2 separate regions of the Homo sapiens genome follow, and region 1 is linked to region 2. Evidence: fine-mapped expression QTL. Tissue or cell type: cerebellar hemisphere. Region 2 holds a variant in brackets; the other region holds the start of a gene. All regions are shown on one strand. Distances are between the middles of the regions.

What was found. PIP is the estimated chance that this variant, and not a neighbour inherited with it, causes the effect.
Region 1: COMMD2 starts here. The variant in region 2 is fine-mapped to the expression of COMMD2 in cerebellar hemisphere (GTEx, PIP 0.96).

The regions. Positions count from the first base shown.
Region 1 is chr3:149,750,160-149,754,611 of GRCh38, forward strand. It overlaps COMMD2 (COMM domain containing 2), which reads right to left and starts at 2,330. Exons shown (of 5, transcript NM_016094.4): 1 at 2,219-2,330; 2 at 2,051-2,128; 3 at 1,244-1,326; 4 at 519-692. The coding sequence starts at 2,285. RefSeq lists a silencer at 2,486-2,555.
Region 2 is chr3:150,108,724-150,113,838 of GRCh38, forward strand. All of the region lies in intron 1 of LOC105374313 (a long non-coding RNA gene), which reads left to right. Among named protein-coding and RNA genes, the nearest start is that of LINC01998, 29 kb to the left of the region's middle. The variant T/G (reference allele first, on the strand shown) is at 2,467.

The DNA.
Region 1 (4,452 bases), 360 kb before region 2:
AGCCAGGTACAAAAGAATATTTACTGAGTCATTCCATATATACAAAGTTAAAAGACAGGTAAATGTAATTTGTGTTAAAAGTCAGGATGCTGGTTACCTTTAGAAAGGAGTGAAGGGGCAGTAATTAGGAGGCAAGGAGGATGCTTCTGGGGTGTGAGTCACAGTTAAATGCACCATGTGATAATTCATTGAGCGGTACATTGACCTGTGCACTTTTCTACATCTGTTAAATTTAAACAGAAAAGTTTTTAAACATCTAGGCACCAACCTAAAAAATCTATATAACCATCTCCTTTTCGAAAATAACCAATTTCTTACAAACTTTGCAAATTAAACTGATTTGAACACACTGAAAATAAAAGAAAATGAATGATTTGTGAAATGGCTTAAAAATGAACATTAAAAAAACAAAGTTTCAAACCGCATCTTAGTTAAGGTGGTAAAGAATACAATAAACAGGACACAAACCTAAAATAATTCTTATATTCTATGTTAAGTTAATTTTAAAAATGCTATACCTGTACATCTAGTCGCCATTCAAGGTTATGATAACTGGGAAGGCTTGGTGCCAATTCACTCAGAATCGTTCTGATCTCTTTTCTGTTGTCCAGATAAAGCTGAAGCAACAATTTGTTTAATTCTTCAGAGAATCCCAGAACAAAAACAGAGTCTTGGAAATCCAGTTCAGAAATCTAAGTGAATTGAGTTTAAAAGAACATCAAAATTTATCTTTGTCTAGCTAAAATAATTGAAATACACAAAAGAATATGATATCCTCTAATTTATTCTGTCTAGTAAAAGAAACAGCATTCCTTAACCACTGACCACCATTCCAAAATCTGTGTTACCAATACATAAAAGTACTTTACTAAAGTATAAAATGGAAAAAATTGTTAAGATGCCCAGTTTCCCTTCCTGTCCTTCATCAAGCCAGATACTGCTGATACGCAAACAAAATACTGATACAGTCTCCCTCCTCTTATGTATCTTCTTAAGATACATATATGGTTTAACAACATGCAGAATTAGAGGTACTTCTATACTAGCTATTTATACTAGCAAGAGGTATTCATATCAGCAGATGATATGATTTTTATTTTTTAGGTATGTCTTCAAAAAATCAATTATAAACCATTAACAACATTATTAAAACACACAGGTACCTGCCAGGACTATGATGTAGAGTACACCAGACCGTTCTTAAGAATCCAGCCAACACAAAACAGTCCAGAAAATCCCTTACCATGAGCTTTGAGCTCTCAGTGAGGAGATACGTTAATCCTTCCACACCATGCTGGACAGTGTCACTACTCACATTGAGTTTTCCTGAGAAAGAAAAGTAAAAACGAGCAAATAAATTACTACTGTAGTATTTATCTTGTTCATATTTGTATTTAAAAATAAACACTATTCATTATTACATGTTTTCAAACACTGCATGAAAAACAGTAAGTTGGCCAGAGGCTCCTGCTCCTTGTCATTCCACTCCCAGCCAAATGCCTTTGGTATTTCCCACCAAGTAACCTTAACAAAATGCAGAACTGTGGAGACTAGTATCAGGTGCGTAGCCCTTCTCTTGAATACGTAGCTCCTTCAAGTCTGGCAGAAGAGGAACTCGACAGGGATTGACTTAATCCCAGAGACTGCCTCTTACCCAGGGGTAAAACAACACTTTTTTTTTTTTTTTTAGCAAAAGCGGATATCTGAACAACTAATAATGATAACCAAATACTTGCAATTTACAGTTGACCCAGCTATTCCACAGACTTTGGTATATTTATACAAAACACTTTTCAGTATTTCTGAAAGTAAGGTGGTATTATGTACATTTTACCATGAGAAAACTGATTTAATAGAAGCTTTAACAATCTCACAGCTACTTAAGGGACGGGCAGGATTTGCACCCTGACTGAAGAGCTCTGCTGGTTTTATTCTACTACAATCGGAACAAGACCCTAGGACTCGCAATAATCCGTTTCTCTCCCGGGAGACAGGGAATGGCTCGCAACCGCCCTAGAAGCCTGCGGAGCCTTCCCCTTTCCCTTCTTACTGGCGGCGCCTTCGTAGATTTTTGGGTTTGCGCCGCGTCTCAGGAATTCCACAGCAATCCGCCCAAACTCGGCGACCACTGCAATGAAAGTCAGAAGGCTGTTGAGTGCCAGGCGCTGCCTTTGACCTCCTCCCCAGCCCACAGAACACCGCCCCCACGCCCGCTGACCCGCGCTGTCCACTTGAGGCAGGAAGGCCAGGTGTTCCTTATGCTCCTCGGACAATTCCAGCAGCATCTTCACTGTCCTACGATTTCACCCGGCAGCGCCGACCCCGCCTTCGCCACTTCCGGCGCCCGTGTCCCGGCGCCTAGAGGCTCCGGCGTCGCAGCGTCCGGAGCTTTGGGTTCCGGCCTACGAACTAACGCGTTACACTCGGACGTTCCCTGCAGCGCAGGCTGAGGTCAGAACATTGAAATCATCCCGCAAAGATGCAGTGAGCGCCTGCTGGGTGCAAGGTGCTAGGCTCTATGGGAGATGAAAAGGTGTTTCAAATCCGACACGCCCCCTCGTGGAGCATACATTAATAATATCAATAGTTCACATTTGTTAAGCACTAACCGTGTCAGGAAGTGTTCTTACATTTATTAAATACATTTGGAGTTCAGAAGAACCCTATGAGGTAGGTTCCATTATAATTTCCATTAGAGATAAGGAAACTGATAGACAAGTCCAGCAACTGACACTTTTATAAAGCTAATAGTTTCCAGAGCTTCTATGTTATCTTAAATGTATCTCAGTTAATATCCTCAACAAACATGGCTTTGTTTTTACAGATAAGACACAAAGCTCCAGAGATTATGTGACAAAGCCTGTGACAGAGTTAGATGGAGAGGGTTGGATCCCTCACTTACCTGCTGCAAAGCCCATCCTTCTACATAACAGCCTGAAAGCTGAAAGCTTCTGACAAGTTTTATGAGTGATTATAAATTAGGATAAAGATAATGATGACAATGACCGATGCTTACAGGATTCAGAGCAATGTTTTTGTTTGTTTGTTTTGTTTTGTTTTGTTTTTTACATGGAGTCTCGCTCTGTCGCCCGGCTCACTGCAACCTCTGCCTCCCGGGTTCAAGCGATTCTCCTGCCTCAGCCTCCCGAGTAGCTGGTATTACAAGCGCCCACCACCATGCCTGGCTAATGTTTGTATTTTTAGTAGAGACGGGTTTTCACCATGTTGGCCAGGCTGGTCTTGAACTCCTGACCTCAAGTCATCCAGCCAACTTGGCCTCCCAAAGTGCTGGGATTACAAGCATGAACCACCACACCTGGCCCAGAGCAATGCCTTTTAAAAAGTATTTAGCGCCTGTGATAATTTAGTTCCTTTTCCAACTCTCTTCTCACCTGCTGTGGTTCAAATATCAGAGATGATAAAGTTGCTAATTGATAGGAATATGATTCTTCAAATCTTAACCCCTTGAAAATGGAGGGTGTGGAGGAAGAGAGGGGAAGGGAAGAAGACTCTTCATATCTGTCTTTTCTATCTAAGGCTTGAGACAACTCTATATTCTGAGTCTCCCAGGCAGACTAAAAATTGGAAGAGTTTTTCAATTCACTTCTCTGTGTCTACTTTGTCCTTCACATCTGACTGAAATTGTTTCTTCCACTGGGACACAGAAAGACAGGTCCTTGAACTTATTAGTTAGTTCTTGAAGTAGCATTTGCAGAGAGAACACAACTTTTACTTAGACTGTGAATTGCAGATTAGCAAAAATTGCATCATTTCCTGAAGTTGCCTTTATTCACACATTATTGAGAAAACATCCATTATTAAAGAATAATTTTCAGAAAAGGTAAAATCATGATTCTTCTACAAGTGTACAATGAACACATGTCAAAAAATGTATTGAACTAGTTAATTAATGAGAGAATTACAGCATTCTGTAATTAATGAGAGATTACAGTAAAAACCAGTTTCAACTGATTCAAAAGAGGTATTCAAGAACTGTACATATATAGGGAGTAGGAATGCTGAAATGAATTTGCAAATAGACACAATATTATGCCAATATGAAATGGCCTTTCTTGTCTGTAATCTCAGGGAATGAAGTGAGGACAGGCGAGGTGAAGGTGAGACTAGGGAGTAGCACAATAGGCTGTCTAAAAAAGGTGGTCAAGGAACCAAGTTAGGCCAGGTATGGTGGCTGATGCCTGTAAACCCAGCACTTTGGAAGGCCAAGGCGGGAGGATCACTTGAGGCCAGAAATTCAAGTCTAGCCTGACCAACATGGTAAAACCCCATCTCTACTAAAAATACAAAAATTAGCAAAGCTTGGTGGCATGTACCTGTGGTCCCAGCTACTTGGTAGCCCAAGGCATGAAAATTGCTTGAACCTGCGAGGCAGAGGTTGCAGTGAGCAAGATTTGAGTCACTGCACTCCAGCCTGGGTGACAGAGTCAGACA
Region 2 (5,115 bases):
CATCCCCTACCACAGTGGTACATTCATTACAATCAATGAACCTACACTGATGCATCATTAGCACCCAAAGCTCATAGTTTACGTTAGGATTCACTCTTGGTGTTATGTTTCTATGGGTTTTGTTAAATGTATGATGATGTTTATCAGTGTCTACTGCTGTAGTATCATTCAGAATCATTTCATTGCCCTAAAAATCTTCCATTGCCCTCCCTCCTCAACCCCGGCAACCACTGATCTTTTAACTGTCCCCATAGTTTTGCCTTTTCAGGAATGTCATATAGTTGGAATTATATAGTATGTAGCCTTTTCAGATTGGTTTCTTTCACTTAGTAGCGTGCATTCAAGTTGCCTCAATGTTTCATGGCTTGATAACTTGATAACTTATTTAGCTCTGAATAATATTTCTTGATAAGGATATACCACAGTTTATATCCATTCACCTACTAAAAACATTTTGGTTATTTCCAATTTTTGGCAATTACGAACAAAGCTGCTATAAACATCCATGTGCTGGTTTTTGTGTGGAGTTGCCAATTCCGTTGGATAAACACTGAGGAGTGTGATTGTTGGATCTTTAGGTAAGAATATGTGTAGTTTTGTAAGAAACTGCCAAACTGTCTTCCAATATTTGCATTCCTACCAGCAATAAATGTTGTCCTGTTGTTCCACATCCTTACCAGCATTTGGAGTTGTCAGTGTTTTGTATTTTGGCCATTCTAATACTTGTTTTAATTTGTAACTCTCTTATGAAATATGATGAACATCTTTATATATGTTCACTTTCCATATATATATGGAACAGACTATTTACATATATATCTATCTTCTTTGATTAGGGGTCTGTTCAGGTTTTTATCCACTTTTTAATAAGGTTGTTATTTTTCTATTGTTGAGTTTGAAGAGTTCTTCGTATATTTCATATAACAGTCCTTTATTATATATTTCTTATTTTCTAATATATGTGTCCAATTCAATAAATTTTCTTTTAAGCACTGCTTTTGCTGCATATTACACATTTTGATGTTTTATTTTAATTTTCATTTAGTTCAAAATGTTTTAAAATTTCTCTTAAGATTTCTTCTTTGACCCATATATTATTTGGAAGTATGTTGTTTAATCTCCAAGTACATTGGATTTCAGACATCTTTCTGTTATTCATTTTAGTTTAATTCCATTGTGATCTGAGAGTAGAAGTTGTATGATTTCTCATTTTTTAAATTTGTTAGGGTGTGTTTTATGTTCCACAGAAGTACTGTCATTCCCCTCATAATGACGTTTCAGTCAACAAAGGACCACATGTATGACAGTGGTCCCATCAGATTATAATGGAGCTGAAAAATTCCTATCACTTAGTGATGTTGTAATATCATAGCATAACACATTACTTTTCTATGTTTAGGTATGTTTAGACACACAAATACTTATCATTGTCTTACAGTTGCCTACAGTGTTCTGTACAGTAATATGCTCTATGGATTTGTAGCCCAGGAGCAATAGGCTACACCATTATAACATAGGGGCATAGTAGGCTGTACCATCTATGTTTGCATAAGTATACTCTATGATGTTTGCACAATGATGAAATTGCCTGACGATGCGTTTCTCAGAACATATTCCCATTGTTACGTGACGCATGACTGTAGTCTATAGATGTCAATTATATCCCGTTGATTGATGGTGATGTTGAGTTCAACTATACCCTTACTAATTTTCTGCCTGCTGGATTTGTCCACTTCTGATAGATAGGTGTTAAGGTTTCCAACTACAATAGCAGACTCATCTATTTCTCTTGCATTTCTACCAGTTTTTGCCTCAGGTATTTGACATTTGGTTGTTAGACACATACACATTAAAGATCGTTATGTCTTTGTGATGTATTGATCCTTTTATCATTATGCAGTGCCCCTTTTTATCCCTAATATCTTTCGTTGCTCTGAAGCCTGCTCCTTCTGAAGTTAATATAGCAACTCCTCCTTCTTTTGATTAGTGTTAGCCTGGTTTATCTTTCTCTATTTACTTCTAATCTACATGTTTCTTTATATTTTAAGTGGGTTTCTTATAGGCAACATGAAGTTGGGTCCTTTTTTCTATCCACTCTGAGGATCTTTGTCTTTTAATTAGTGTAGGTAGACCATTGACATTTAAAGTGATTATATCTACCATATTTATTACCATTTTCTATTAATTTCTCTTGTTCTTTGTTTCTATTTTTATCTTCCTCTCTTTTCTACCTCTTATGGCTTTAATTGAGCATTTTATATAATTCTATTTGCCCCTTCTTAGCATATACATTATACTTTTATCAGATAACATTGTACCAATTCATGGATAGTGTGAATAACTATTTTTGTTTGTTTTTGAGAAAGGGTCTCGTTCTGTCACCCAGGCTGGAGTTCAGTGGTGCAACCATGGCTCACTATAACCTCCACCAACCTCCCAGGCTCAATCAATCCTCCTGCCTCAGCC[T/G]CCCAAGTACCTGGGACTGCAGGCATGCATCACCATGCCTGGCTAATTTTTGAATTTTAATCTCTTATAATAACAAAATACTTGTAATTCCTCCCTCCCGCATCTTGTATCACGGCTGTCTTTTTTTTTTTTTTTTTTTTTTGAGATGGAATCTTGCTCTGTAGCCCAGGCTGGAGTGCAGTGGTGCAATCTCAGCTCACTGCAAGCTCAGCCTCCCGGGTTCATGCCATTCTCCTGCCTCAGCTTCCCGAGTAGCTGGGAGTACAGGTGCCCACCACCACACCCGGCTAATTTTTTGTATTTTTAGTAGAAATGGGGTTTCACCATGTTAGCCAGGATGGTCTCGATCTCCTGACCTCGTGATCCGCCCGCCTCGGCTTCCCAAAGTGCTGGGATTACAGGCGTGAGCCACCGCGCCCGACCCACTGCTGTCATTTTACTTATATATTGGCATATAGTTGAACACATTGTTGCTGTTATTATTTTGAACTGACTGTTAGATCAATTAAGAATAAGAAAAATAGGCTGGACAAGTTGGCTCACGCCTGTAATCCCAGCATTTGGGAGGCCGAGGCAGGCGGAACACGAGGTCAAAAGATGGAGACCATCCTGGCCAACATGGTGAAACCCTGTCTCTACTAAAAATACAAAAACAGATTAGCTGAGCATGGTGGCGAACGCCTGTAGTCTCAGCTACTCAAGAGGCTGAGGCGGGAGAATCGCTTGAATCCAGGAGGCGGAGGTTGCAGTGAGCCGAGATCGCACCAGGGCACTCCAGCCTGGCGACAGAGCGAGACTCCATCTCAAAAAAAAAAAAAAAAAAAAAAAAAAGGAAGAAGAAGAAAAAAAGAATAAGAAAATAAAATGTTTGTTTTCCTTTCACTTAATTCTTCTCTGAAGTTCTTCTTTTCTTCACGTAGGTCCAAGTTTCTGACTTATATTATTTTCCTTCTCTCCGAAGAACTTATTTTTAACATTTCTTGCAAGACATGTCTGCTGACAACAGATTCCCTTAGTTTTTGTTTCTCTGAGAGAGGCTTTATTTCTCTTTCACTTTTAAAAGATGATAATTTTTCAGGGTAAAGAATTCTAGTTTGGCAGTTTTTTCTCTCAACACTCAACAATTTATTTTACTCTTGCGTGCCGGGTTTCTGAGGAAACGTTGGATATAATTCTTATTTTTGCTTCTCTGTAGGTAAGGGGCAGCTGATCCCTGAACAATATGGGTTTGAACTGCACGGGTCCACTTATACACAAATTTTTTCCAATAAATATATTGGACAATTTTTTGGAGGTTTGCAACAATTTGAAGAAACTTGCAGATGAATTATGTAGCCTAGAAATATTTTTAAAATTAAGAAAAAGTTAGGCATGGTATGAATGCATAAAATATATGTAGATACTAGTATATTTTGTCATGTATTACTATAAAATATACATATATTATAAAAAATTAAAATTTATCAAAACTTACATAGACTGTACACGGTGTCATTTTTAGTCAAGAGAAATGTAAGCAAATGAAAAGATACAGTATTAAATTATAACTACATACAATTAATTGTAGCACATCCTATACTACTGTAATAATTTCAATGCCATTCCCTGTTGCTGTCATGGTGAGCACAAGTGCTGCGTGTGTCCACTTAAAACATCATGTGATGCTAATCATCTCTACGTGAGCAGTTTACCTCTCCAGTAAATTGTGTATCACAGTAAAAAAGTGATCTTTTGTGGTTCTCACATATTTTTCATTTTGTTGAGTGCATACCGTAAATCTTGAATAATACCATGGGACCCATACAAAGTGCCACTAGTGATACTGGAAGTATCCCCAAGAAGCACAGAGAGGTCATGACATTACAAAACAGTTGAATTGCTTGATATAAGATTGAGGTCTGCCGCTGTGTTTGCCCACTGCTTCAGACAGATAATTCATCTTATAAACAGATAACATAAACTTATGGTATTAATAAATACAGTACAATAATGTACTGTAAATGTATATTAAATGTGTTTTCTCTATCTTATGGTATTCTTAGTAACATTTTATTTTCTCTAGCTTATTTGTAAGAATACAGTATATAATATATACCACATACAAAATACATGTTAATCAACTGTTTATGTTATCAGTAAGGCTTCCAGTCAATAGTAGGCTATTTCAAATCCATGTTCATTAACCCAGAAATCATACCAAAAACAATGTCATCAATATCATACCCTGTCCCTATCCTCTATAGGAGAAATAAACTCCCCTTTCCCTGAAAATAAAAATCTAATCTGCTGAAAATTAAATGATAGGTTTTGTACCATAGTGGTAGTATCAAGGGGTGAAACATACATTGACATATCAGTCAATATACCTGTCCCCCTGCATTGTAATTATTTGCTGATTGCCTGTCTTTCCTGTGAGACTGTCAGCTTCTGAAGGACAGAGACAAGGCTTGTTTGATAACTCTCTGGCACATAATAGGCGTTTCGATATACACATGTTGAATGTATCATTGCTTCATCAGATGTGTTAAGTGTGAACCAACCTCACTAAGTTATTAAGCACCTACTTGGGATAAGGCTGCAGGTTGGATACTTTGGATATATAAAGATGAGTAAAGTTTGTTCTCTGCCTTCAAAGGCAATCATTATAGC